Linked DNA regions of Homo sapiens: regions 1, 2 and 3 are each linked to region 4. The links come from fine-mapping of genetic effects on gene expression. A gene starts in region 4. Each other region holds a variant in brackets. All regions are shown on one strand. Distances are from middle to middle.

Evidence for each region. PIP is the estimated chance that this variant, and not a neighbour inherited with it, causes the effect. A credible set is the group of variants that fine-mapping cannot tell apart.
Region 1: its variant is the best candidate, but not a certain one, in a credible set for the expression of CCDC134 in whole blood (INTERVAL, PIP 0.67).
Region 2: its variant is the best candidate, but not a certain one, in a credible set for the expression of CCDC134 in monocytes after LPS (Fairfax 2014, PIP 0.52).
Region 3: its variant is the best candidate, but not a certain one, in a credible set for the expression of CCDC134 in whole blood (INTERVAL, PIP 0.59).

What each region holds. Positions count from the first base shown.
Region 1 is chr22:41,731,918-41,739,563 of GRCh38, forward strand. MEI1 (meiotic double-stranded break formation protein 1) reads left to right here. Exons shown (of 31, transcript NM_152513.4): 10 at 328-427; 11 at 552-686. Among named protein-coding and RNA genes, the nearest start is that of MEI1, 36 kb to the left of the region's middle. The variant CT/C (reference allele first, on the strand shown) is at 4,337.
Region 2 is chr22:41,756,615-41,764,260 of GRCh38, forward strand. MEI1 (meiotic double-stranded break formation protein 1) reads left to right here. Exons shown (of 31, transcript NM_152513.4): 18 at 1,751-1,919; 19 at 6,560-6,707. Among named protein-coding and RNA genes, the nearest start is that of CCDC134, 40 kb to the right of the region's middle. The variant GT/G (reference allele first, on the strand shown) is at 4,705.
Region 3 is chr22:41,673,138-41,678,726 of GRCh38, forward strand. It overlaps SNU13 (small nuclear ribonucleoprotein 13), which reads right to left. Exons shown (of 3, transcript NM_001003796.2): 3 at 796-2,058. The coding sequence ends at 1,796. It overlaps LOC107985567 (protein LLP homolog), which reads right to left and starts at 4,023. Exons shown (of 1, transcript XM_047441692.1): 1 at 2,065-4,023. The coding sequence starts at 3,988. The coding sequence ends at 3,605. The variant C/T (reference allele first, on the strand shown) is at 1,652.
Region 4 is chr22:41,796,814-41,804,459 of GRCh38, forward strand. It overlaps CCDC134 (coiled-coil domain containing 134), which reads left to right and starts at 3,866. Exons shown (of 7, transcript NM_024821.5): 1 at 3,866-3,953. It overlaps MEI1 (meiotic double-stranded break formation protein 1), which reads left to right. Exons shown (of 31, transcript NM_152513.4): 31 at 2,441-2,641. The coding sequence ends at 2,486. RefSeq lists enhancers at 2,687-3,673, 3,449-3,528, 3,599-3,678 and silencers at 3,149-3,238, 3,829-3,888.

The DNA of each region.
Region 1 (7,646 bases), 65 kb before region 4:
GGAGTGGGGTTTTGACCTGATTCTCCAAGGAGGAACAGGAGTATGCCAAGTGGAGAAAATATGGCTTGGTCAGTAGGTGTTCACTGAAAACCTCAAGTGCCAGGGACTGTGCTATGGCTTGTACTGGGTGTTGGGGAGATGAATCAGATGAGGGCCCGGCCTCAAAGATCTCACAGTCTGGTCCCATTAGCTCAATCTTGTCAGGGTCCCTCCACGAGTGGCCTCCAACTCATACATGCTGTCCAGAGCCTGTCACCTCTTCTGGGTGGGCAGTGAAGGAACAAGAGAGCACTGATCCCTGGCCTCTGTCATGTCATCCTGTGGTAGGGATCGAGGCAGTGGTGAGGAGCCTGCAGGGAAGCCTGAAGATGAACAACATAGAGCTGCACAAGCAGGGCCTGCTGCTTTTCGCTGAAATCCTGACCCGGTGAGCAAAGTGGTGGAACATGAGGCTTGTAGGGGCCAGACTGCAGAAGGAAAAGTGGGCTTTCACTCCTGGTGGGGTCAGTGAGAAGAGTTCACCTACTCGTTTCTCATCTTCCATTTCTCAGGCAGCCAGAGGAGATCAAGCTGTTCACAAGCTCAGCCATGTGCAGAGATGCTGGCCGTGCCCTCCAAGAAGCAGTTAGCAGCCCTGTGCTGGAGGTGGCTGCTGAGGCCTTGAAGGCCACTTCTGCTTTTCTGAGGTGAGAGACCCAGGCAGGCTGAACTTTCCATCCCTGCATATACCTAAGGGCCTGTTGAGGCCAGGGTAGCGGATATTTAAGTATCCCTAGATTACTTATAATACCTAATATAGTTGGCCCTTCATAATTGTGGATTCCACATCCATGGATTCAACCAACCATGGATTGAAAAATTTTTTTTTTTTTTTTTTTTGGAGATGGAGTTTTGTTCTTGTTGCCTAGGCTGGAGTGCAATGGTGTGATCTCAGCTCACTACAATCTCTGCCTCCTGGGTTCAAGTGATTCTCCTGCCTCAGCCTCCCAAGTAGCTGGGATTACAGGTGTGTACCACCATGCCCAGCTAATTTTTGTATTATTATTAGAGGCGAGGTTTCACCATGTTGGCCAGGCTGGTCTCGAACGCCTGACCTCAGGTGATTCACCTGTCTCAACCTCCCAAAGTGCTGGGATTACAGGCGTGAGCCACCGCATCCAGCTGAAAATTTTAAAGAATGGATGGTTGTGTCTGTATTGAACACGTACAGACTTTTTTTCTTGTTATTATTCCCTAAACAATACAGTATACGTTGGACATGGTGGCTCACACCTGTAATCCCAGCACTTTGGGAGGCCAAGGTGGGTTGGATCACCTGAGCCCAGGAGTTCAAGACCAGCCTGGGCAACACAACAGAACCTGTCTCTACTAAAAATCCAAAAATTAGCCAGGCATGTTGGTGCACACCTATAGTTCCGGCTGCTTGAAGGCTGAGGTGGGAGGATTGCTTGAACCTGGGAAGCAGAGGTTGCGGTGAGCTGAGATCACACCACTGCACTCCAGCCTGGGTGACAGAGTGAGACCTTGTCTCAAAAGAAAAAAGAAAAAAAGAAACCAGGCCAGGCACAGTGGCTTATCCCTGTAAACCCAGCACTTTGGGAGACCAAGGCAGGTGGATCACTTGAGTCAGGAGTTCGAGACCAGCCTGGCCAATGTAGTAAAATCCCATCTCTACAAAAACTTAACTGGGCATGATGGCGCATGCCTGTAGTCCCAGCTACTCAGGAGGCTGAGGCACGAGAATTGCTGCAGAGGTTGTAGTAAGCCAAGATTGCGCCACTGCACTCCAGCCTGGGTGACAGAGCAAGGCTCTGTCTCAAAAACAAAACAAAACAAAACACCCAAACAGTATAATAACTATTTATATAGCATTTGCATTGTATTAGGTATTATATGTAATCTAGAGATGATTTAAAGTATACTGGAGGACCACGTGCGGTGGCTCATGCCTATAATCCCAGCACTTTGGGAGGCCAAGGTCGGCGGACCACCTGAAGTCGGGAGTTTGAGACCAGCCTGGCCAACATGTAGAAACCCTGTCTTTACTAAAAATATAAAAAATTAGCCGGATGTGGTGTCACACACCTGTAATCCCAGCTACTCAGGAGGCTGAGATAGGACAATTGCTTGAACCTGGGAGGCGGAGGTTGCAGTGAGTGGAGATCACACCATTATACTCCAGCCTGGGTAACAGAGTGAAATTCTGTCTCAAAAAATAAAATAAAATAAAATAAAATAAATAAAGTATGCTGGAGGATGTGCATAGGTTATATGCAAATACTATACCATTTTATGTAAGGAGCTTGAGCATCCTGGTTTTGGTATCTTCAGGGGTCCTGGAACCAATTCCCCACAGATACTGAGGGACGACTATGCAATGTCAATGCAATGTAGACGGGGCGCGGTGGCTCACGCCTATAATCCCAGCACTTTGGGAGGCTGAGGCGGGCCAATTACCTGAAGTCAGGAGTTCAAGACCAGCCTGGCCAAGATGGTGAAACCCTGTCTCTACTAAAAATACAAAAATTAGTTGGGCATGATGGCGCTTGCCTGTAATCCCAGTTACTCAGGAGGCTGAGGAAGGAGAATTATCTGAGCCTGGGAGGCGGAGGTTGCAGTGATCTGAGATCTTGCCACTGTACTCCAGACTGAGGCCACAGAGTGAGACTCCATCTCAAAAACAAACAAACAAACAATGGAATGTAAATAGTTGTCATGCTGTATTTAAAATTTTTTTTGAGATGAAGTTTCGCTCTGTCGCCCAGGCTGGAGTGCAATGGTGTGATCTTGGCTCATTGCAACTGCTGCCTCCCAGGCTCAAGCAATTCTCCTGCCTCAGCCTCCCGAGTAGCTGGGACTACAGGTGCGTGCCACCATGCCCAGCTAATTTTGTATTTTTAGTAGAGATGGGGTTTCGCCACGTTGGCCAGGGTGGTCTCGAACTCCTGACCTCAGGTGATCCACCTGTGTCGGCTTCCCAAAGTGTTAGGATTACAGGTATGAGCCACTTGCACCTGGCCTACATTTTATATATTTTTTTATTGTATTTTTTTCTTTTTTTTGAGATGGAGTCTCCCTCTTTCACCCAGGCTGGGGTGCAGTGGCGTGATCTTGGCTCACTGCAACCTCCGCCTCCCAGGTTCACGCCATTCTCCTGCCTCAGCCTTTCTAGTAGCTGGGACTACAGGCGCGCGCCACCACACCTGGCTAATTTTTTTGTATTTTTAGTAGAGACGGGGTTTCACTGTGTTAGCCAGGATGGTCTCGATCTCCTGACCTCGTGATCCGCCCGCTTCGGCCTCCCAAAGTGTTTTTTTTTTTTTTTTTTTTTGAGATGGAGTTTTGCTCTTGTTGCCCAGGCTGGAGTGCAAAGGCATGATCTCGGCTCACCACAACCTCTGCCTCCCGGGTTCAAGTGATTCTCCTCCTGCCACAGCCTCCCGAGTAGCTGGGATTACAGGCATGCACCACTACACCCGGCTAATTTTGTATTTTTAGTAGAGACGGGGTTTCTCCATGTTGGGCGGGCTGGTCTCGAACTGCCGACCTCAGGTGATCCCCCACCTTGGCCTTCCAAAGTGCTGGGATTACAGGCGTGAGCCACCGTGCCCAGCCATATTGTTATTTTTTTTATAGATTTTAAAAAATATTTTTGGTCCACAGTTGATTGAATCCATAGATGTAGAATCCACAATACAGAGGGCCAAATTATACTTCCAAAGTGTTATGTTATCATGTCTTTTGTATTTTCTCTGTTGTTTTGAATTTATATCTTGAAAGAAAATTCTCTTTCATTTTGGTAAGGAGTAGCAGAGGTAACTGTATCTGTTGACTCCATCACCTTTAATCAGAAGCTGGCAGCTCTTTAACACCTATGAACTCCAGCCTCTAGCCCTGGTTCTCTTACTGTAGTTCCTCTTTGAATGCTCTCAGCCACTCACAGAGCTTCAGCTACTAGCTATATGTTGATAATGCTCAAATCTATAGTTCTTGCCTAAAATGCCTGTGTTAGTTTCCTATTGCTACAGGACCAGATTACCACAAACTTGAAAACAACAGGTATTTACCTTCTCATGGTTCTAGGGGGCCAGAAGTCCAAAATCAGTATCACTGAAATGAAATCAAGGTGTCAGCAGGGCCACACTCCCTTTGGAGCTTCTAATACGGAACACTTCCCTGCCTCTTCCAGCTTCTGGTGGCTCCGGGCATTCCATGACTTAAGGTCATATCACTGTAATCACTGCCTCTGTGACTACATTGTCTTCTCTTCTCTATGTGTATAATCTCCCTCTGCCTTTTCTCTTTCTTTTCTTAAATTTTTTTCTTTTTTCTTTTT[CT/C]TTTTTTTTTTTTGAAACGGAGTCTTGCTTTGTCTCCCACGCTGGAGTGCAGTGGCGTGATCTCAGCTCACTGCAAGTTGTGCCTCCCGGGTTCACGCCATTCTCCCGCCTCAGCCTCCCGAGTGGCTGGGACTACAGGTGCCTGCCACCATCCCTGGCTAATTTTGTTTTTGTATTTTTAGTAGAGACAGGGTTTCACCGTGTTAGCCAGGATGGTCTCGATCTCCTGACCTTGTGATCTGCGTGCCTCTGCCTCTCAAAGGGCTGGGATTACAGGCGTGAGCTACCGCGCCTGGCCAAAAAATTTTTTTTTATTTTTTGTAGAGATAGGGATCTTGCTATATTCCCCAGGCTGGTCTTGAGCTTCAGGCTTCAAGTGATCCTCCCACTTTGACCTCTCAAAGTACTGGGATTACAGGCATGAGTCATTATGCCTGGCTGCCTCTCTCTCATAAGGCTACTTATGATGGGATGTAGGGGACCACCTGAATAATCCAGGATAATGGCTTTATCTCAGGATTCTCTGTGAAAACTTTACTGTAGAAAATAACATAGGTTCCTGGGATTAGGACCTGACATCTTTGGGTACCACCATTCAGCCCACTATAGTGTTTTCCTGAACTCCAGACCACATTTCCAACTGCCTGGTGCTTTATTCCAGAACCTTCAATCTCAATTTGTCCATGCTACTAGCATATAGAGAAAAACACCCAATTTGGGATCTAAAGAATTAGATTTGGGTCCCTGGCTCCACAAACAGTACTCAGTCACTTCTTGTTCATTCCTCTGATCTGCTTTCTGTTTCTTGAACACATCAAACTTATTCCTGCCACTAATTATTCCAACTCTGCCCAAAATAATATTCCCTTAAATCATTGTGTGACTGCGTTTTTCTTATCATTCAAGTCTCATTCAGAATTTCCTTTCCTAATTGACCTTATCAGACTGCTATAGCACCTATCAAACATTTGAAAGTTATTGTTTATTCTTTTTTTTTTTTGAGACGGAGTCTTGCTCTGTCGCCCAGGCTGGAGTGCAGTGGCGCGATCTCGGCTCACTGCAAGCTCCGCCTCCTGGATTCACGCCATTCTCCTGCCTCAGTCTCCTGAGTAGCTGGGACTACAGGCGCCCACCACCACGCCCAGCTAATTTTTAAAAATATTTTTAGTAGAGAAGGGGTTTCAGTGTGTTAGCCAGGATGATCTCGATCTCCTGACCTCATGATCTGCCTGCCTCGGCCTTCCAAAGTGCTGGGATTACAGGCGTGAGCCACCGCGCCCGGCCTCTTTTTTTCTGGGGGGTGAGGGGTCAGAGTCTCACTCCGTCACCCAGGCTGGAGTGCAGTCATGCGATCTTAGCTAACTGAAACCTCTGCCTTCTGGGTTCAAGCAATTTTTCTGCCTCAGCCTCCCAAATAGCTGGAATTACAGGCGTGAGCCACTGAACCTGGCCTATTCATTTGTTTTGTACCCCGCCTCCCCCCACTAAAATATAAGCTCCAGGAGCTAAAGGACCTTGTCAGTTTTTTCACTGCTCTGTCTCTGGCTCCTCATAGGTAGTCAATATGCGAATGTAGGATGTTAAAATGGACAGTGAGACTAAGGGATCCTAGCACCACAATGGGAAATTATTCCTTAGCAAGGTGCTTGAAATCTTAAAAAATAATAATAATAACCGAGGAAACCCATATTTATAGAGTAACTTTTATTTTGTTACCATATTTTCTCTTTTAATTTTCTAACACAGTAATGTATTCAAATAATACAAAACAAAATATTGGCTGGGCACGGTGGCTCACGCCTGTAATCCCAGCACTTTGGGAAGTCAAGGTAGGAGGATCGCTTGAGGCTAAGCGTTTGAGACTAGCCTGGACAACATAGCGCCACCCCATCCCTACAAAACAATATAAAATAAAATAGGCCAGGCACAGTGGCTCATGCCTGTAATCCCAGCACTTTGGGAGTCCGAGGTGGGTGGATCACAATGTCAGGAGATTGAGACCATCCTGGCCAACATGGTGAAACCCCATCTTTACTAAAAATACAAAAATTAGGCTGGGTGTGGTGGCTCATGCCTGTAATCCCAGCACTTTGGGAGGCCGAGGCGGGCGGATCACGAGGTCAGGAGTTCGAGAACAGCCTGACCAACGTGGTTCATCCCCGTTTCTACTAAAAATATAAAAATTAGCTGAGCACAGTGGCGGGTGCCTGTAATTCCAGCTACACAGGAGGCTGAGGCAGGAGAATCGCTTGAACCTGGGAGGCGGAGGTTGCAGTGAGCCGAGATCATGCCACTGCACTTCAGCCTGGGCAACAGAGCGAGACTCTGTCTCAAAAACAAAACAAAACAAAACACCAAAATACAAAAATTAGCTGGGCGTGGTGGCACATACCTGTAATCCCAGTTACTTGCGAGGCTGAGGCAGGAGAGTCACTTGAACCAGGGAGTTGGAGGTTGCAGTAAGCCAAGATCACGCCACTGCACTACAGCTTGGTGACAGAGCAAGACTCTGTCTCAAAAAAAAAAATAAATAAATAAATAAGTAATAAAATAAATAAATAAAATTAGCTGGGTGTGGTGGCATGCACCTATGGTCCCAACTACTTGGGAGGTAAGGCGGGAGGATCACTTGAGCCTGGGAGTTTGAGGTTACAGTGAGCTATGATCACACCGCTGCACTCCAGCCTGGGTGACAGAGTGAGATCCTCTCTTGAAAATAAATAAATAAATTATAGAGGATTTATCATGAAAAGGAATAGGCTGGGCATGGTGGCTCACGCCTGTAATTCCAGCACTTTGGGAGGCCGAGGCAGGTGCATCACCTGAGGTCAGGAGTTCAAGACCAGCCTGGCCAACATGGCAAAACCCTGTCTCTACTAAAAATACAAAAAAAAAAAAAATTAGCTGGGCGTGGTGGCGAGTGCCTGTAATTCCCGTCTTAAATTTAAGACATTATTCATTGACTTGCCAGTTAGAAAGATCAATATTTAATTAGCTCACATTTTTTGTCTTCTCTACATGTCCTTGGCATTTTTGCTATTTAATATTTTGTTTTTAACCTTTAAATAATGTACCTAAAACTGGTATTTCTTGTTCCCTCAACTTGAAGCAGTGTCTCCTGAGTTCCTACGTGGTTAGCAGCACCCCAACTCTTCTTTTCCCCTCTCTTCCCTACTTCTACTTCTCAAGGCCAGTCAGCTATACCTTTAATTTTACATTGTGAAAGTTGTTAATATTTATAGTCTCTTCTGTAACTATATTTAAGTCTTTGTGATTTGACTCTAGGTTGGTTCTAAAAATTGAAACAAA
Region 2 (7,646 bases), 40 kb before region 4:
AGGCACTTGCCACCACGCTTGTCTAATTTTTGTATTTTTAATAGAGACAGGGTTTTGCCATGTTGGCCAGGCTGGTCTCGAACTCCTGACCTCAGGTGATCCACCTGCCTTGGTTTCCCAAAGTGCTGGCATTACCGGCTTGAGCCACCACGCCTATCCTTCTTTCCTGTTCTTTTGGTATTAAAATATTCTTTCTTTTATGAAACCGTTTTCGTAAGAAATCTAGAAGTCTCTGCCCTCAGGATGAAGTCCCAATTCCTTAAGTGGCATTTGCTTAAAGGTCTTTCACAGTCCAACTGCAGATTACATCACATAGTTCCCCAGCTTCTGACACCCCACATCTATTCACTGACTATCCAGTGACACTGAATGGAAACATGGCATGTCTTCTCATGCCTTCAGGCCTCTGAACACCTTGCTTCCTTTTCTCTTTTCTCCTGTCGCTGCCTCTTTTCTCCTCACCCTCCACAGTTTGTTTCTTTCTTTCTTTCTTTTTTTGAGACGGAGTCTCGCTCTGTCGCCCATGCTGGAGTGCAGTGACATGATCTCGGCTCACTGCAGGCTCCGCCTTCTGGGTTCACGCCATTCTCCTGCCTCAGCCTCCCAAGTAGCTGGGACTACAGGGGCCCGCCACCTCGCCTGGCTATTTTTTTGTATTTTTAGTAGAGACGGGTTTTCACCGTGTTAGCCAGGATGGTCTTGATCTCGTGACCTCGTGATCCGCCAGCCTCGGCCTCCCAAAGCTTGCTTTCTTTTTTCTGAGATGGAGTTTCGCGCTTGTCATTCAGGCTGGAGTGCAATGGTGCCATCTCAGCTCACTGCAACCTCTGCCTCCCAGGTTCAAGCGATTCTCCCACCTCAGCCTCCCAAGTAGCTGGGATTACAGGCGCCCGCCATCATAGCCGGCTAATTTTTGTATTTTTGTAGGGACGGGGTTTCACTATGTTGGCCAAGCTGGTCTTGAACTCCTGACCTCAGGTGATATACCCTCCTCAGCCTCCCAAAGTGCTGGGATTACAGCCTGGCCCACAGTTTCTTCCTCTTTGACCTTTCCTTCCCCATGCCAGGCAGCCTGAGTCACTCCCTCCTCAATATAGCGCTGATCACATGTCCTGCAATTGCCTGTCTCATTATGTGTCTCTTCCCATCAGCTGCCAGTTCCTGGAGGTAGGGCCTGGGTCTCACAGCCTGTCCTGAGTAGTAGCCACTCAATGAACATATGTCAAATGAATGAAAGAATGAATGTTTTTGGGAGGCCAAGGTGGGTGAATCACCTGAGGTCAGGAGTTTGAGACCAGCCTGGCCAACATGGCAAAACCCTGCCTCTACTAAAAATACAAAAAATTAGCTGGGCGTGGTGGTGGGTGCCTGTAATCACAGCTACTTGGGAGGCTGAGGCAGGAGAATTGCTTGAACCCAGAACGGGGAGGTTGCAGTGAGCCGAGATCATGCCATTGCACTCCAGCATGGGCAACAGAGCGAGACTCTGTCAAAAGAAAAACAAAACAAAAAAGGAATGAACGTTAATTTTTGAGACATATCCATGTCCTTCTGCTTGTGAAGTTTAGTCTTTCCCGGTAGGTTGAACCTTGCTCAAAGGAAGAGGAGCCTCTGATTTCCTTATTTCCCACTATACTGCATTTACCCTTGCTGCCCTGTGCAGTACTCTGCATGTAGTAGGTACTAATGTGCTGATTACCTGTTCTTCTATGTTCTCTGTGTGGCTTTCCTCTACTTATTCCCTCCCTAGAACTCTCTGCAGTGTCTGAGCTCCTGCAGCATGGGCTGCCCCAGATAAGCAGCAGGAGCCCTGAAAGCCTTGCCTTCCTGTCTGATCGCCAGTACATGGAGGGAGCTGCTCGCCAGAGACAGTACTGCATCCTGCTCCTCTTCTACTTGGCCTACATCCATGAAGACAGGTCAGTGCACAGAGGTGGGTGGCTGGTGGTGGGTCTTGGGACCTTCATCAGCAGTTCAGTTCAATAAATAAGGGCATCTCTCCAAGCCTGATGCTGGGCACTGGGGACACGGGGATAAGTAAGAAATGGGTTGTGTCCCTGAGAGGCTCATATCTTAGAAGTGGGTTAGAACAGGTGGGTAGACACTGTGCTGAGAGACAGAGGCCTAGAAAGCCAGTGAGTATTCCTTGCTATCCTTGAGGGTGTTGTTTGTCCACAGAAAAAAACTTCAGTAGGTTACTTTGGTTTTAATCATTACTGTTCAATTTATTACATTTTTAAAATCATGGCTGGGCATGGTGGCTCACGCCTGTAATCCCAATGCTTTGGGAGGCCAAGGTGGGCTGATCAGTTGAGGTCAGGAGTTCGAGACCAGCCTGGCCAACATGGCGAAACCCTGTCTCCACAAAACATACAAAAATTAGCCGGGCATGGTGTTGCACACCTGTAATCCCAGCTACTCTGGAGGCTGAGACAGGAGAATTGCTTGAACCCAGGAGACAGAGGTTGCAGTGAGCCAAGATTGTGCCACTGCACTCCAGCCTGGGTGACAGAGTGAGTGAGACTCCATTTCAAAAAGGATATAAAAATAAAAATAAAAGGGCTGTTCTTTCTTAAGCTGTAAGAAATAATTTGTTGGGCCGGGTGCAGTGGCTCACACCTGTAATCCCAGCACTTTGGGAGGCCGAGGCGGGTGGATCACCTGAGGTCAGGAGTTTGAGACCAGCCTGACCAACAAGGTGAAACCCTGTCTCTACTAAAAATACAAAAATCAGGCCGGGCGCGGTGGCTTACTCCTGTAATCCCAGCTCTTTGGGAGGCCGAGATGGGCAGATCACGAGGTCAGGAGATCGAGACCATCATGGCTAACAAGGTAAAACCCCGTCTCTACTAAAAATACAAAAAAATTAGCTGGGCATGGTGGTGGGTGCCTGTAGTCCCAGCTACTCGGGAGGCTGAGGCAGGAGAATGGTGTGAACCCGGGAGGCAGAGCTCTCAGTGAGCCGAGATCGTGCCACTGCACTCCAGCCTGGGCGACAGAGCGAGACTCCGTCTCAAAAAATAAATAAATAAATAAATAAATAAATAAAAATAAAAATACAAAAATCAGCCGGGCATGGTGGCAGGCGCCTGTAGTCCCAGCTACTCGGGAGGCTGAGACAGGAGAATTGCTTGAACCCAGGAGGTGGAGGTTGGAGTGAGCCAAGCTCATGCCACTGCACTCCAGCCTGGGTGTCAGAGTGAGTGAGACTCCATCTCAAAAAGGATATAAAAATAAAAGGACTGTTCTTTCTTAAGCCGTAAGAAATAATTTATTGGGCCGGGTACGGTGGCTCACATCTGTAATCCCAGCACTTTGGGAGGCCGAGGCGGGTGGATCACCTGAGGTCAGGAGTTTGAGACCAGCCTGACCAACAAGGTGAAACCCCATCTCTACTAAAAATACAAAAATCAGGCCGGGTGCAGTGGCTCACTCCTGTAATCCCAGCTCTTTGGGAGGCCGAGATGGGTGGATTACGAGGTCAGGAGATCGAGACCATCATGGCTAACACGGTGAAACCCCGTCTCTACTAAAAATACAAAAAAATTAGCCGGGCGTGGTGGTGGGTGCCTGTAGTCCCAGCTACTCGGGAGGCTGAGGCAGGAGAATGGCGTGAACCTGGGAGGCAGAGCTTGCAGTGAGCTGAGATCGCGCCACTGCACTCCAGCCTGGGCGACAGAGAGAGACTCTGTCTCAAAAAAAAATAAAAAAAAGAATAAAAAAAATAAAAATGAAAATACAAAAATCATCCGGGCGTGGTGGCAGGCGCCTGTAGTCCCAGCTACTGGGGAGGCTTAGACAGGAGAATTGCTTGAACCCGGGAGGCGGAGGTTGCAGTGAGCTGAGATCGTGCCACTGCACTCCAGCCTCGGTGACGGAGTGATACTCTGTCTCAAAAAATAAATAATTAATTAATAATAATAATTTATTGGCTGGGTGTAGTAGGACGAGCCGTAGACAGAACCTCTCAGACACCGAATTGTAGAAGGAAGGGCTTTATTCAGCTGGGAGCATTGGCAAGCTACTGCCTTAAAATCTGAGCTCTCCAAGTGCACAATTTCTGTCCCTTTCAAGGGCTCACAGCACTAAAGATTTCACATGAAAGGGTCGTGATTGATTTGAGCAAGCAAGGGGTACGTGGCAGGGGCTGCATGCACCGGCGGTCAGAGTGAAACAGAACAGAGCAGGGAGTTTCACAGTGTTCTTCCATACAATGCCTGAAATATATGTGTAACATCGGGTTCTAAGTCATGAGTTGATTTTTAACCGCTAGGTTTAAGCCAGGCAGGCCCAGGCCTGGTTTTGGGCCTGGCGCCGGGCTGCCTGGCTTTGATTTCACTTCTTTGTTTTTTTTCTTAAAACAGGTACTGAGTAGAAAACAATATAAAACAATATGAGAGGGTCTGTCTCTTCCCTCACGGGTGCGGTGGCTTACACCTGTAATCTCAGCACTTTGGAAGGCTGAGGTAGGTGGATCACCTGAGTTCAGGAGTTCAAGACCAACATGACCAACATGGTGAAACCCAGTCTCTACTAAAAATACAAAATTAGCTGAGTGTGGTGGCGAGCGTCTGTAATCCCAGCTACTGGGGAGGCTGAGGCAGGAGAATCACTTGAACTTGGAAGGCAGAGGTTGCAATGAGCTGATATTGTGCCATTGCACTCCAGCTTGGGCGACAGAGTGAGACTCAGTGTTTTTTTTTT[GT/G]TTTTTTTTTTTTGAGACGGAGACTCACTCTGTCGCCCAGGCTGGAGTGCAGTGGCCCAATCTCGGCTCACTGCAAGCTCTGCCTCCCGGGTTCACGCCATTCTCCTGCCTCAGCCTCCTGAGTAGCTGGAAATTCAGGTGCCCGCTACCACGCCCGGCTAATTTTTTGTATTTTTAGTATAGACGGAGTTTCACTGTGTTAGCCAGGATGGTCTGGATCTCCTGACCTCGTGATCTGCCCGCCTCGGCCTCCCAAAGTGCTGGGATTACAGGCGTGAGCCACTGCGCCCGGCCGACTCAGTCTTAAAAGAAAAAAAAAATTATTAAGGTAAAATTTACACAACATAAGCTTGACCATTTTAAAGTGAACAATTCAGTGGTATTTAATAGTACCTTTAAAATGCACAACCACCACCTTCATCTAGTTCTAGAACATTTCCATCACTGCAAAGCTGTCACTTCCGTTCCTCCTCCCCAGCTCCTGGCAATCAACAATCTGTTCTGTCTCTTTGGAGTTACCTATTCTGAATATTTCACATAGATGGAATCATACAGTGTGTGACTTTTTGTGTCTGGCTTCTTCCACTTAGCATATCATTTTAGAAGTCCATCCAGTGAGCATAATGTTTGTACCGTGTATCAGTACTTCATTCCTTTTATGGCTGATTAATATACCTTTGTATGTATACACCATAATTTGCTTTTATTCACCTATTGGTGGACATTTGGGCCTATCCACCTTTTGGCTATTGTGAATAGTGCTGTTGTAAACATGTGTGTACATGTATTTGTTTGAGTAGTGTTTTTAATTCTTTTTGGGTATATTCTCAATCCTCTCACCTTGGCCTCCTCAAATGCTACCATTACAGGCGTGAGCCACTGCACCTGGCCTCCTGTTTGCTGTCTTTTCGCTTTCTTTTCTTTCTTTCTTCCTTTCCTTTCCATTCCTGTCCTGTCCTATCCTGTCCTTTCCTCTTTTCCCTCCCCTCCCTTCACCTCCCTTCCTCTTACTTCCCCTCCCCTACTCTACCCTCCCTTTTTCCTTACCTTCCCCTTCCCCCTTCCTCTCCTTTCCTTTTGTATCTTGCTCTCTTACCCAGGCTGAATTGCAGTAGCACAATCATGGCTCGCTGCAGCCTCAACCTCCTGGGCTCCAGCGATCCTCCCATCTCAGCCTCCCATGTAGCTGGGACTATAGGCATGCGTCTACACAACCAGCTAATTTAACTGATTTTTTTTTTTTTTTTTGTAGAGAAGAGGTCTGACTATGTTGCCTAGGCTGGTCTCGAACTCCTGGCCTCAAGCAGTTCTCCCACCACAGCCTCCCAGAGTGCTGGGACTCTAGGCATGAGCCATCACACCTGGCCGTTTTCACTTTCTTAGTGGTATCTTTTAAGCACAAATGTTTTTAATTTTGATGACCTCTAATTTATCCATTTTTTTCTTTTGTCATTTATGCTTTTGGTGTTATATCTGTTAAATACACCACTGTTTAATGATAAATACAAGAAGAGAGGGGTGGAGCAGCTGCCAGAGCAGGGCCTTCTGAACCCCAGCAGTAGCACCCTTCTCTTTAACACTGCTGGTCCAGCTGGCAGATAGCTCACCTCCCAAGTGTGAATGAGGAGTATTTGGCCCCTAACTGAGCCTTGCACAAGGCACAGAACAATGTGATGTATATATATGGCAGTGCTTTGTAAGTATGTATAGCACACTGTTTGTCTAAGATGTCATTAGGCTGTGGGCATATTGGGGCAGGACAGTGGGCTGAGGAAGGATGCGGCCAGGCAGAATAGAAGAGCCCAGTGGCCTGCCAACTCTGCCTTTCTCACTCAGGCTTTTCTTGGTTGACAGGTTTGTCTCAGAGGCAGAGTTATTTGAGGCTGTGCAAAGCTTCCTCCTGTCGCTGCAGGACCAGGGCGAGCGCCCCCCACTGGTGGTCTTCAAAGCCTCCATCTATCTGCTTGCAATCTGCCAGGACAAAGACAATACACTACGTGAGGTATGGACCACAATGCCTGGGCTCCTTGTCCTTCTGTACCTCTTTACATTAGTGTTCCCTGGGAGACCATGATGATGATAGTGTATAGACAAGCGGGTGGTAGAGAGAGACAAAGCGGAGGTGTTAGGAGTGTGGAGAGGAGTAGGATGCAGACTCATACAGAGCCTGTATAATTTACCTAATTATCTCAGCCTTCCTGGGAGGAAGAGATTATTTGCATTCTACAGATAAGAAAATCGGGACTGAGGCTGGGCACGGTGGCTCACGTCTATAATCCCAGCACTTTGGGAGGCTGAGGTGGGCGGATCACTTGAGTTCGGGAGTGCAATGGTGTGATTTCGGCTCACTGCAACCTCCACCTTCTGGGTTCAAGCGATTCTCCTGCCTCAGCCAGGAGTTCAAGACCAGCCTGGGCAACATAGTAAGACCTTGTCTCTACAAAATATTAAAAATTAAAAAAAAACAACAACTCTTTGGTCACCTTTGGAGGATGCTATGCAACAAACTCATGTTTTTGAAAACTGGTAACCACAGGAAAAGAATCAAGCACTTAACCTATGTTTCCTATGTAATCTAATCTAACCCTTCAGAGTAACTGAATAGTTAATGAGGGGAAGTTTCCTTTTTTTTTTTTTTTTTTTTTGAGACGGAGTCTCGCTCTGTCACCCAGGCTGGAGTGCAGTGGCAGGATCGCTGTGGCAGGATCGCTGCTGACCACAACCTCCACCTCCTGGGTTCACGCCATTCTCCTGCCTCAGCCTCCTGAATAGCTGGGACTACTGGCGCCCGCCACCACACCCGGCTAATTTTTTGTATTTTTAGTAGAGACGGGGTTTCATCCTGTTAGCCAGGATGGTCTCAATCTCCTGACCTCGTGATCTGCCCGCCTCGGCCTCCCAAAGTGCTGGGATTACAGGCGTGAGCCACCGTGCCCGGCTG
Region 3 (5,589 bases), 120 kb before region 4:
GTGAGGGGGCAGTGGCTTTAGTCACCAATACCAATCCTGCATGTGCCAAGGGTTACTAGAAACCCTGATTCTCCAACAGTGATTCTCAATTGGGGGTGATTTTACTGCCGGGGGCATTTAACAATGTCCGGAAACATTTTTTGGTTGTGGGGGGGTGCTGCTATTGCCACCTAGCGGGTAGAAGCCAGTGATGCTACTAAACATACAACACACAGGGCAGTCCTCACAACAAATTAACCAGCCCCAAATGTCAACAGCACGGAGGTTGAGAAAGCCAGTTCCAGTGATAGCAATGCTCCAGTTGAGTGTGTATAAGACGACATTTTGAACTGCCAAGGTAGAAACTACCTGGTAGGAGGAGACAGCTCTTCCATAGCCTTCTGGTAAAAAAAAGTCTAAGCAAGTGGCCAGGCGTGGTGGCTCACACCTGTAATCCCAGCGCTTTGCGAGGCTGAGACAGGCAGATTACCTGAGGTCAGGAGTTCAAGACCAGCCTGGCCAACATGGTGAAACCCTGTCTCTACTAAAAATACAAAATTAGCTGGGCGTGGTGACGCACGCCTGTAATCCCAGCTACTTTGGGGGCTGAGGCAGGAGCATCACTTGAACCCAGGAGGCAGAGGCTGCAGTGAGCCGAGATCGTGCCATTGCACTCCAGCCTAGGCAACAAGAGTGAAACTCTTTCACAAAGAAGAAAAAAAAAGTCTTAAGCAGCTATCACCACTCTAGTAAAGCTAAGTATGTCTTCATTCCAATTTTAGCCGGATACTTACTAAGAATCAGGCACTGCCATTCTGTCATCAAAATGGAACAGATTTATTAGGATGCTCACAAGAATGGAGAACACATGAACTAGCACTCTCCTCATGTGACAGAGAGTACATCTGACCCACATGGTGGCAGGACACAGGGGAAGGGCTCTCAGAGCTGGTGCCAAGTGTCCACCAAAGAAAGTCCCATTCACCAGAGACAGGCTGTTTCCTTGGACTCCACCATCTCTGTTACAGCTACCAGCCAGGTCTCCATGATCTTCCTGGAATCCTTCATGCCAGCATCAGTTCATGCTCTCTGAGCTTGTCACTCCCGACTCTTTCAAGACCCAGGTCAACTGCCCCATGGCTCACCCACCCAGGCTGCCTCCGGAGTCCTGCAGCACATCTCTTTGGTATGCTGCTGCCCTGCTACCCTCAAGGGCATGGTTGTGGGTAGGGGGAGAACATCAACATCACATTACCAAAAGCAAACAGCAGGGGTACATTAGTAAACGACACTTGGACATAGCCGAACAACCTCACAGAACACATGCTTCCTCCCCAAATGATACCTAATCCCCCAAGAGCAAATGAAACCCCTTGATCACTTGAACACGTATGAATGATTCTGTGTGCCAGGCACAGGGACACACAATGAATGCTGTTTAATTCCACCACACCCCGCACACAACAGGAAGCTAGTGGCTGAAAGCTGGAACCAGATCTCTGTCCTGGCTCCATCAGCTTTCTCCTGGCTCTTTCTGCCTTTCAACGGTGCCACCACCCTGCTTCTGTCTGCTCTGAACACTTGTTCCAAAAAGGGAGGATAAAAGGATGAAGGATGGCAGAGGGAGGGAGGAAAGGAAGGGGGATAGCAACCCTGTAAAACAGAACAAAAA[C/T]AACACAAAAATCCAGAAACCAGATTTAGTACTACATTTTATAACAATAGAGAGTAGCTGAAAATACTACATGCTAACACAGATAATATGATACACAACCTCAGGGGGGAAGCTGGCAGGGAGCACGTGGCAGAGGCCACAGGTTTAGACTAAGAGCCTTTCAATGGACTGCTGAATGGATTGGATCTGCTGTTTCAGCTGCGAGCCTTCTTTGATGGTGACAGAACAGGCGATGACAGGCCTGGAGACCCCACAGGCTCTCCCCAGGGCCTGCTTGGAGCGCACAAACACGTAGGGCACATTCTTGTCTTCACACAGCAGCGGCAGGTGCAGAATGATCTCCAGTGGCTCGGCGTCTGCAGCCATCACGATGAACTCAGAGATGCCCCTGTTGAGGGTTTTGGTGGCTGCGGAGAGAAGGACGTGAAGCTAATAGGTGATGTGGGCTTGGGCAGGGCAGCCACAACAAACTGGGAAGAATGCCTAGGCACACACAATTATGTGTCCTAGACCGGCCCTGGGATATGATAAAGGATTCAAACACCAGTCAGTCATACACAATGGCATTTTCTCAAGCCCTACATTAAATCCACCACTTATCCTCAAAACACGTCCTGAATCTGACCACTTCTTCTTCTTCTTTTTTTTTTTTGAGATGGAGTCTTGCTCTGTCACACAGCTGGAGTGCAGTGGTGCGATCTTGGCTCACTTCAACCTCCGCTTCCCGGGTTTAAGTGATTCTCCTGCCTCAGTCTCCCAAGCAGCTGGGATTACAGGCACGTGCCACTGTGTTTAGCTAATTTTTGTATTTTTAGTAGAGAGAGGGCTTCACCATGTTGTCCAGGCTGGTCTCAAACTCCTGACCTCAAGTGATCCACCCACCTCGGCCTCCCAAAGTGCTGAAATTACAGGTATGAGCCACTGTGCCTGTCCTAATCTGACAACTTTTTTCTTTCTTTTTTTTTTTTTTTTCTTTTTTTGAGATGGAGTCTCACACTGTCGCCCGGGCTGGAGTGCAATGGCGCAATCTTGGCTCATTGCAACCTCTGCCTCCCAGGTTCAAGTGATTCTCCTGCCTCAGCCTCCCAAGTAGCTGGGATTACAGGTGCCTGCCACCATGCCCAGCTAATTTTTTGTTTCACTATGTTGGCCAGGCTGGTCTCAAACTCCTAACCTTGTGATCCACCCACCTTGGCCTCCCAAAGTGCTGTGATTACAGGCATGAGCCACCACGCCTGGCCCTGACCACTTCTTTCTACTCCTCTGCTATACTCGTCCAAGTCACCATCATCTCTTACCTTGTCAACTGCAACAGCTTCCACAAACCCCCACCAGCAAGTAGTAGTATATTAATAATATAGTATTTCTCAAGGTATCTGTGACTGAGAGTCAGAGTTTTACCATCTCAATCTGCCATAATCAATACTTCTAGAAAGCTGATCCCACATGCGACTCACCATGCAAGTTCAACACCCCACAGCACCGTTTCAGATGCGTACTCTCCTGACTGCTTGCCTCTGTGGCTCAGTGCGAATACTCTGCATTCATGCTGGAGTACTTGAGAAGGGCACACACTCTAGAGCTACACTGTCTGAGTGCAAATGCTGGCACTCATTCTTGTTACACAAATGACCTTGAGCAAGGTGTTTAACTTCCCTTACTTTTATCATCTATAAAATAATTCTACCTAACAGGATTCTACCTAATAAAAAAAGAATTACCTAATTCTTTTTAACCTAATTCTTTTTTTTTTTTGTATCAAAGAAAATATTTTATTCAAGTTCCCAAAACAAACTTCAGGAGTTATGCTGGGTTTGAATTGAAGAAAAAAGGCCAAGTTAAAATAGGAAAACAAATGGTTTTCATTTGGTGGCAGCTGAAATCAAAGTATACATGTATATACATTCTAATCCATCATCTATCCCATGTGGCATTTTCCAAGGTTTTAAGAGTCTACCACGCCAAACCCTTTGCCACTTTCACTGCTTTTGCTTTGCTTTTCCCCTTTCTTTTCTCTCGCTTTGCCGTCAGCCTTTTTCTTTGCCTTTGGTTCATCCATATTGGGTACTGTCCATGCTGGTCTAGAAGAGTCTTTTTGTTTCTCTTAGTATCAGTCTCCCTTTTCATGTCATCTTTTTCATCTTTTACCTCACATTGCATTTTCTCTTGGCAATGTTTGGGTACCACCACAGTTGCTATCTCTTGAACATCTTTCATTAAAACATCACCGTCTAGTTTGAGAATACTTTTAAGCCTGCTGGCCTCCTTTGGGGCATTCTTTTTTCTCTTTTCAGCACGCATCTTTCTTTTCCACTTACTCCGTAAGCTTTTAGCCATGTTTCACCTGAGAAACGAACACCCACACCTCAGCTCTTTTTAACCTAATTCTAATTACCTAATAATTCTACTTAATAGGATTATTGAAAGGATTAAACCAGTTAATAAGAATGATGAGGCTGGGCATGGTGGCTCACACCTGTAATCCCAGCCCACTGGGAGGCTGAGGCAGGTAGATTGTTTGAACTCAGAGTTTGAGACCAGCCTGGGCAACATGGCAAAACCCCATCTCTACTAAAAATATAAAAAATTAGCCAGGTGTGGTGGCGTACACCTGTAGTTCCAGCTACCTGGGACGCTGAGGTGGGAGGATCACCTAAGCCCAGGAGGTCGTGGCTGCAGTGAGCCATGATCAATGCCAATGCACTCCAGCCTGGGCTGCAGAGTAAGACCCTATCTCAAAAAAAAGTAAAATAAATAATAATAATAATACCTGACACATGGCAAATGCAAAGCATGTTCATTTCTATTGATATTACTATAGCTTACTCACCCTACAAAAGTCATAGGAGTGACTCTTTTATAAGTGTTAAGTAAGATCATAGCAATCTTGCTGTTCAAAATCCTTCTACTCATTTACCATTGTACTCACTGCTAACAGTGGCCTACATGGTCTCATGTGATCTCCTAGTACCTCTCATCCCCACACTTAGTTCCAGCCACACACCAGCCTCCTTAGAATCCCTCAAGCATGCCTTTACACCATGCCCAAAAACGTTTCTTTCCAACACCCTCATCTATTCAGTTCTCTGCTCAAACTCCTCAGACAGACCTTCTCTGAATACTCCATCTAAAAAGACCCACCACTGCCATTCCTATCCCCCTTCTCTACTTTATTCTGTTTTACAGCATTCTTTTTTTTTTTTTTGAGACGGAGTCTCACTCTGTCGCCCAGGCTAGAGTGCAGTGGTGAGATCTCGGCTCACTGCAAGCTCCGCCTCCCGGGTTCACACCATTTTCCTGCCTCAGCCTCCTGAGCAGCTGGGACTATAGGCGCCCGCCACCACGCCCGGCTAATTTTTTGTATTTTTGGTAGAGATGAGGTTTCACCGTGTTAGCCAGGATGGTCTCGATCTCCTGACCTCATGATCTGCCCACCTCGGCCTCCCAAAGTGCTGGGATTACAGGTGTGAGCCACCGCGCCCGGCCTCTTACAGCATTCTTTACCACCAGGCATAAAACCTATGTCTTTCTCCACTGGAATGTATACTCCAAGAAGGCAGAGACTTCATTTTGTTCACCAGTGCATCATCAGCATATATACATGCGCCTGGCACATAGCAGGCAATCAATAAATATGGCAAGAAAGAATACCTGACACTGAGGCAGAAGTACGGAAAATTGTTGCATCTCCCTCCCTGAACTCCCAGTAAGCATATTCTGAATTAAGTCGCTGAGACTGAGCATCTCCATTCAAGGACCTGTGTGCTTATCACCGTGCAAAGTATGGCAAGAGGAAATAAGGTTGCTCTGTGTCCATGAGTCCTCATCTACCTGAAGTGTAAGAAGTCACATCCCTGCCCAGCCAAGCTGACCTGAGTGCATCAAGTGAGAAGAGAGACCTCCCAGGAGAGCTGGTGGGTCACCCTACAATGCCCCAC
Region 4 (7,646 bases):
GCATGTGCCTGTAGTCCTAGCTACTCGGGAGGCTGAGGCACAAGAATCGCTTGAATCGGGGATGCGGAGGGCAGTGAGCCAAGATCACACCACTGTACTGCACCCTGGGCGACAAAACATGACTCTGTCCCAGAAAAAAAACAAAAAATTTTGTTTCATGAATAAAATTATATTTTTTACATTCTTTTTATTTATTTTTTTTAAGACAGTGTCTTGCTTTGTCACCCAGGCTGGAGTGCACTGGTGTGAACATAGCTCACTGTAGCCTTCACCTCCTGGGCCCAAGGGATCCTCCCGCCTCAGCCCTCCGAGTAGCTGAGACTACAGGTGCACACCAGCATGCCTGGCTAATTTTTGTAGATACAGGGTTTCACCATGTTGCCCAGGCTTGTCTCAAACTCCTGAGCTCAGGTGATCTGCCTGCCTTGGCCTCCCAAGTGCTGGGATTACAGGCATGAGCCACTGTGCCTGGCCCATGAACAAAATTATTTAAAACTGCATAAAATTACCTTCAGGTGGCCAGACGCGTGGCTCACGCCTGTAATCCTAGCACTTTGGGAGGCCAAGGTGGGTGGATCATCTGAGGTCAGGAGTTCAAGACCAGCCTGGCCAACATGGTGAAACCCTGTCTCTACTAAAAATACAAAAATTAGTCGGCTGTGGTGGCACACGTCTGTGATCCCAGCTACTTAGGAGGTTGAGACAGGAGAACTGCTTGAACTTGGGCGGCAGAGGTTGCAGTCAGCTAAGATTGCACCACTGCACTCCAGCCAGGGCGACAGAGCAAGACTCCGTCTCAAAAAAATAAAAAATTACCTTCTGGCTATGTGTACAAGGTGTATATAAAACAAATGAATTTTGTGTTTAGACTTGGGTCCCATCCCCAACATATCTCATTATTATAGGCAAATATTACAAAATTCGAAAAAAAATCTGAAATACAAAACACTTCTGGTCCCAAGAATTTTGGATAAGGGATACTCAACCTGTACCTACCTCCTAGGGTTGTAGCAAGGACTTAAATGAGTTAATATATGTAAAGCACCAAAAACAGCTCCTGGCTTGGTGTGAATGTTATATTGGTGTCTGTTATTATTCCTACTCCCTTTCCAAATAACGAAACTGAGGCCAGAGACATTCAGTCGTGCCCAGAATCACAGAGCTAGTGATACAATCAGGATTTGACCTCAGATTTGCCTGTCTCCAAAGCTACATCACCGAACTCAGAAAGGAGCTAGTCCTTCCCCCATGAGCTTTGGAGACAGTTGTCCAAGCGCAGTTGGTTCAAGTGATCCTCAGCCCAACACACACACACACACACACACACACACACACACACACACACACACACACACACATAGTGTGTGTCTCTGTGACTGCCATGTTCTTAAGAAAGCTTGGATGGCCAGGTGCACACACACACACACACACACAATGTGTGTGTGTCTGTGTGACTTCCATGTTCTTAAGAAAGCTTGGATGGCCGGGTGCAGTGGCTCACGCCTGTAATCCCAGCACTTTGGGAGGCCAAGGTGGGCAGATCACCTGAGCTCAGGAGTTTGAGACCAGCCTGGCCAACATGGTGAAACCCCATCTCTACTAAAAAATACAAAAATTAGCTGGGCGTGGTAGCATGAGCCTGTAATCCCAGCTACCCAGGAGGCTGAGGCAGGAGAATCACTGGAACCTGGGAGGCAGAGGCTGCAGTGAGCCAAGATCGCGCCACTGTACTCCAGCCTGGGCAACAGACCAAGACTCCGTCTCAAAAAAAAAGAAAGCTTGGGGGCCGGGCGCAGTGGCTCACACTGTAATCCCAGCCAAGGTGAGTGGATCACTTGAGGTCAGGAGTTCTGAGACGAGCCTGGCCTACATGGTAAAACCCCATCTCTACTAAAAATACAAAAATTAGCCGGGCATGGTGGTGCATGCCTGTAATCCAAGCTACTTGGGAGGATGAGGCAGGACAATCACTTGAACCTGGGAGGTGGAGATTGCAGTGACCAGAGAGCCGAGATTGTGCCACTGCACACTCCAGCCTGGGTGGCAGAGTGAGACTATGTCTCAAAAAAAAAAAAAAAAAGCAAGCTTGGGGCTGTGGCAGTGGTCAGAGACCCTCTGGTAGGTGGCTGGTTGCACCCAGAGACACTGCAGTCCAGAGATACTGCAGTCCAGAGGTGTGTGTGAGGGTAGTTTGCTTCCTCTGCACCCCTCTGGCTGCCTCCCTGGCTCTCTTCCTTGCCCCTTCCGTGCAATAGTTCCCTGTTGAATAGCAACTACCTAGCCCAGGTGTTCAGGACCCAATTTCAGAATCCATCCCACTATTCTCAGGAGCACTTCTGTTCTTGCCTGACCATTCTTGACTGTTTTGGGCTCTGGAAGTGTGATGCCCCCATGGTTGGCCCCACTTCTCTGCTGTTTTCCTCTCATGTTTTGCTGCCAGCTGCCTGGGAGGGGTGGCTGTATCCCTGTCCCACATCAGAAACTGATCCTCAGGACTTGAAGGCCCAGAAGTGGAGAGAGAATGAGACCTGGAGACAAAGGGCATAATTGTTGGGGAAATGGATGACAGCTGAAGCTATTCATATGGAGCCATATACTCTATTGTTGAAATAGAATAAGGAAATAAAATGATACACTCACATACCTGCGCGAGCTCTCCAAAAACACTGTACTACCTTGTCTACCAGGAGCTGGTTTCTCAGCCAGTTGGATAAGGGATTGTTTCAGCAAGGAGACTGATGGCCTCCTCAGGGAAGGAGGGACGGGACAGGATTTGTTCTTGTAACAGCATTCAAGGAGTCAGCTGGGTGCCTCAGCTGTACTCAGAGAACACCAGTCAGGCCATCCTGGGGCTGGCAGGGCAGAGAAAGGCCTAGGGGTTGGGGCTGCTGCGATTCAACAGCTCCCAGAGGCACTTGACCTGCTCCCTCGCCTCACGTGGAGGTGGATAGAGGTAAACTTTCCAGGCAAGGAGGGTCAAATTCTCAGCTTTCCTATCAGAACGAAACTGTCCCAGCCTCAGCCCTTGTCTGGCTAAAGTAGGTCACCTCTGTCCCTTCCCGTACAGCCGTCATCAGAACTGGTGTTTATGCACCCTCGTGGGTAGATCCTGGGAATGCATGTCCAGCTTGGTCCCCGGCATGAGGTCTGCGCTCGACAGTGCCTGCCCTGCGCCTGTTCTGGGGAGCTCAGCCCAGACCGGGCCTCCAGCTCCCTTCCCGCCCGGCAGGGGCCCCGGGCCCGGAGATGGCCACGCCACGCTGCCTTCTCGGGTCTGACTGTCCTGATCCTGCGCAAAAGTGGGGCTGCACTCGGCCTAACGAACGGACGAGGAAGCCCCCGCCGCACTTGGCTTATTAGTTGGTGGACCGGAGGGGCAAGGAGGGGATGCCCGAATCCTGCACTGAGTCTCTGAGGTCCTTAAAGAAGAACAAAAGTGCTAGTCACCGCCCACTAAACTCACGTTGCGATCTAAAGTTTAAAAACTCGGCCACAGACGACGACACAGTTTCAGGGAGGGCGCGCAGAAGGTCGCCCGGCCGACAGGAGCTGGGACCCCAGTTTGCTGATTCACGCCTTAAATTGGGCACAGACCCCACCCACAGATTTAACTTCCTCCAACACAAGCTAAATCCAGGGCCACGTACCCAGGGCCCGCAGGAGGGACAGGACGAGGATGGTGCCCACAGCGCGCTGGAGGCACGCCAGAGCCTGGAGGGGCAGGCAGGGGCGGTGGAGCGGGGCCGGAAGTGAGGCTAGCGGAGCCCCGCAGTGGCGGCTCGCGCTCATTGGCCGGGAGCAGCGCGGTGGGCGGGACGGAGCTCGGCGGTCTGCGCTCGGTTGCTAGCCGTTTGCTCCCGCTTTCAGTTGCTTTGCTGTTAGCCTGTTGGACCTTCGAGCCTAGCTGCTCGCACAGGACTCGGCCACCTGCCCTTCCTGCACCGACTGGCCAGGTAGGTGGCTGTAGGGGCCGCGGGCTGCAGGTTCCCGGGAAGGATAATGAGAGAACCGAGGGCCTCGAACCGGCTGCAGGTGGTGGGGAGGGAGTTTCGTGGACCTGGACGCCTCTGTTCCTTGAGAAGGCTCGCTCCCTCCTCCGGGAGCTCCGAAGGCTCGGGGTCAACCACCTGGGCCCCCGACCCCGGTAGCTGGCTCAAGGCCCGCCACTACCTGGTACCTCTGCAGGAGTTCAGAGCCTCATGCTGAGCCAGGAGGAGCTCCGGGTGACGCATACGGCAGGATCGGGATTGAGAGGCTGAAAAAGTGAGTTTAACAGTAGAGAAAGCAGGACCTGTCCCGCAGGCTGCTGTTCTGGCTTTTCTTTCCCACTACCTGCTTCAGTCATTGCCAGCTGTCTGGTATTCTCCTTGGCCCCTAAAGTTTTGCCCTAGCCTGGTTCTGGTTCCCTTGAGTTTGGAGCAGGAGGTGGAATGTGGAGGGTCCTGGGTGAACTTGGACTATTCCTTCTCTAGGTTTCACTTATCTCGTCTGCTTGGGGGTAGGGGGTTCTCCGGATGATCTCTGCAGCCCCTCACTGTCTGTAACTGAGCATCTCTCCCCTGGGGCAGGTGTCCTGGTAGTTCAGTAGCCAGCTCTGATCTCAGGTAGCCTGTGCTCATTTACAAAGAGTCAGAAGACAGAGCACTGGACTTAGAGCCAAACAGACACTTGGTTCAGCCTGGGAATAGCTGTGTGACTTTGGGCAGTCACCTCATTTTTCTGTGCCTTGATTTCACATTGGTAACATTGGGGAGTTGTAATCTGAGTGTGAGACCTCTCCTGACCACTTTATGTAATCTTGTACCTGACCGACACCCTCTCATCCCTCTGTGCTTATTTTACAAGTTTATTGATCAACTCTTATCCCTACTAGAGACAAGTACCATGAGTGCAGAGATTTTTGCTTATTTATTGCTGTATTCCCGCCTCTAGAACAGTGCCTAGAGTGTGGTAGGTACTGTCAACCTAAATAGCAGAGTGAGAGACTCTAAAAAAATGATGTTTACTTGGGAATAGACATTGTAGTGACAATATGTGTGCCATAGTAACCTGTGTACGTATTTGGGGAGGTAAAGGAAGACAAAGGTTTTGAAAAGGAAAAATGAGGATTACATGATTATTTTGAGATAGTTATCCTTGGCTACAAGGATGAATAGCAAGAGTGGTGCTAGTCTGAGGTTGGACAGGCAGTTGCAGGGCAGATGTCCTCACAGAAAGATTTTTCTGTGTAAGTTTGCAGTGGCCTTTGTGCAGGGTTGTGGTTTTTGCATTTTTTGTGATCTTGTTATCAGTCATTTGTGCATAAGAACCCTCTTTTCACAACCTTCCTCGGTTTTATTTGTCAGAGTTGTTGTTCTTGTTTTTTCCCATTGGAGAATCATGCTTTAAATTTGTCAGAGTTTTTAACACAAACGACTCTGTTTTGATTCTAACAACTTTCATATTTCCCCCTTTTGGTCAAGATCTTTCTCCAAAAACTTTACTGATCAGTCATCCTGTAGTTAGGTCCCTCAGTGCTGGGACGGACCTATCTTGGGTTGTTGGTCTCTTGCCATGTTGGAGACTAGGAGTCTCCAGTTGGAGACTGGTGACTAGGAGTCAGTGTCAAAACCCTTGTAGTGGTTGGGAGCAGGGGCTCACGTCTGTAATCCCAGTACTTTGGGAGGTCAAGGAGGGAGTATCACTTGAGTCCAGAAGTTCAAGACCAGCCTGGGCAACCGCCAAGGCGGGCGGATCACCTGAGGTTGAGAGTTCGAGACCAGCCTGACCAACATGAAGAAACCCGTCTCTACTAAAATACAAAAATATATATAAATAACATCCGGGCGCGGTGGCTCACACCTGTAATCCCAGCGCTTTGGGAGGCCGAGGCAGGCGGATCATGAGGTGAGGAGATCGAGACCATCCTGGCTAACACGGTGAAACCCCATCTCAACTAAAAATACAAAAAATTAGCCGGGCGTGGTGGCAGGTGCCTGTAGTCCCAGCTACTTGGGAGGCTGAGGCAGGAGAATGGCGTGAACCCAGGAGGCAGAGCTTGCAGTGAACCGAGATCGCACCACTGCACTCCAGCCTGGGCGACAGAGCAAGACTCTGTCTCAAAAAAATAAAAAATAAAAAAATAAAAAATAAATAAAATAAAATACAAAAATTAGCCGGGCGTGGTGGCACATGCCTGTAATCCCAGCTACTAGGGAGGCTGAGGCAGGAGAATCGCTTGAACCTGGGAAGTGGAGGTTGCGGTGAGCCGAGATCGCACCATTGCACTCCAGCCTGGGCAACAAGAGCGAAACTCCGTCTCAAAAAAAAAAAGTTATCTGGGCATTGGTTGGGGAGTGTGCGGGAGTCAGTTGGGTAGAGGATCACTTAAGCCCAGGAGTTTCAGGTTATAGGGAGCTATGATTGTACCGCTGCACTCCAGCGTGGGTGACAGAGCGAGACCCTGCCTCAAAAAACCCCAAATACCTTTTAGCCACATTTGAGCAGCAAGGGAGGTTTGGAAGGAGTGGCTCTCAAGGTATGTCTACCTGGAGTTCATTGTTAAGTTCAATTTTGGCTGTTCCATAGGCATTTGCTGTCATTGCAAACTTCTGGGCCAGCATTATTCTGTCAGGAGTGATACTTCAACAAAAATTTAAAAAGTAATAGGTATAAAGTTTAAAAAGAAAATAGGGCTGGGCACGATAGCTCACCCCTGTAATCCTGGCACTTTGGGAGGCCAAGATGGCCAGATTGCTTGAACCCAGGAGTTCGAGACCAGCCTGGCCAAGATCATGAAACCTCGTCTCTACAAAAAATACAAAAATTAGCCAGGCATGGTGATGCACACCTGTAATCCCAGCTACTCGGGAGGCTGAGGCAGGAGAATCACTTGAACCCGGGAGGCAGAGGTTACAGTGAGCCAAGATGGTGCCACTGCACTCCAGCTCGGGCTACAGAGTGAGACTCTGTCTCCAAAAATAATGTAAAATAAATAAATAGGAAAATAGGAAGTAATAGCAATGTGATAATCTCAGTTTGCATAATAGTTCTGAGAGGCCCACCGTGGTGGCTCACGCCTGTAATCCCAGCACTTTGGGAGGCTGAGACGGGCGGATCACGAGGGCAGGAGATGGAGACCATCCTGGCTAACATGGTGAAACCCCGTCTCTACAAAAAATACAAAAAAAATTACCCGGGCGTGGTGGCGGGCACCTGTAGTCCTAGTTACTCGGGAGGCTGAGGCAGGAAAATGGCGTGAACCTGGAAGGTGGAGCTTTCATTGAGCCGAGATTGCACCACTGCACTCCAGCCTGGACGACAGAGCCAGACTCCTACTCAAAAAAAAAGAAACGAGTAAGAGTCTCAAAATGATATGGAATCTTGTTCCAGTGTCTTCGGAAAAGCTATCTACAGTATGAAACCATCAACTTCTTATCCTGGTTTGCAGTTTGAATGTCTCTGGTTATGGCATTGGGATGTTTGGTGAACTTCCTGTGTGACCCATACATTAGGCACAAGGCTTGTACCTTAAAGTTCATCTAGTTTCAACTTACAGGGCTTCAGGAACAGAGCAGTGCCAATTTTTAATAATTTCATGAAAGAAAGTTAGATTGGAGGAATCTAGAATTCAGGAGCTAGTCCAGTATACAAGTAGATAATGAGAA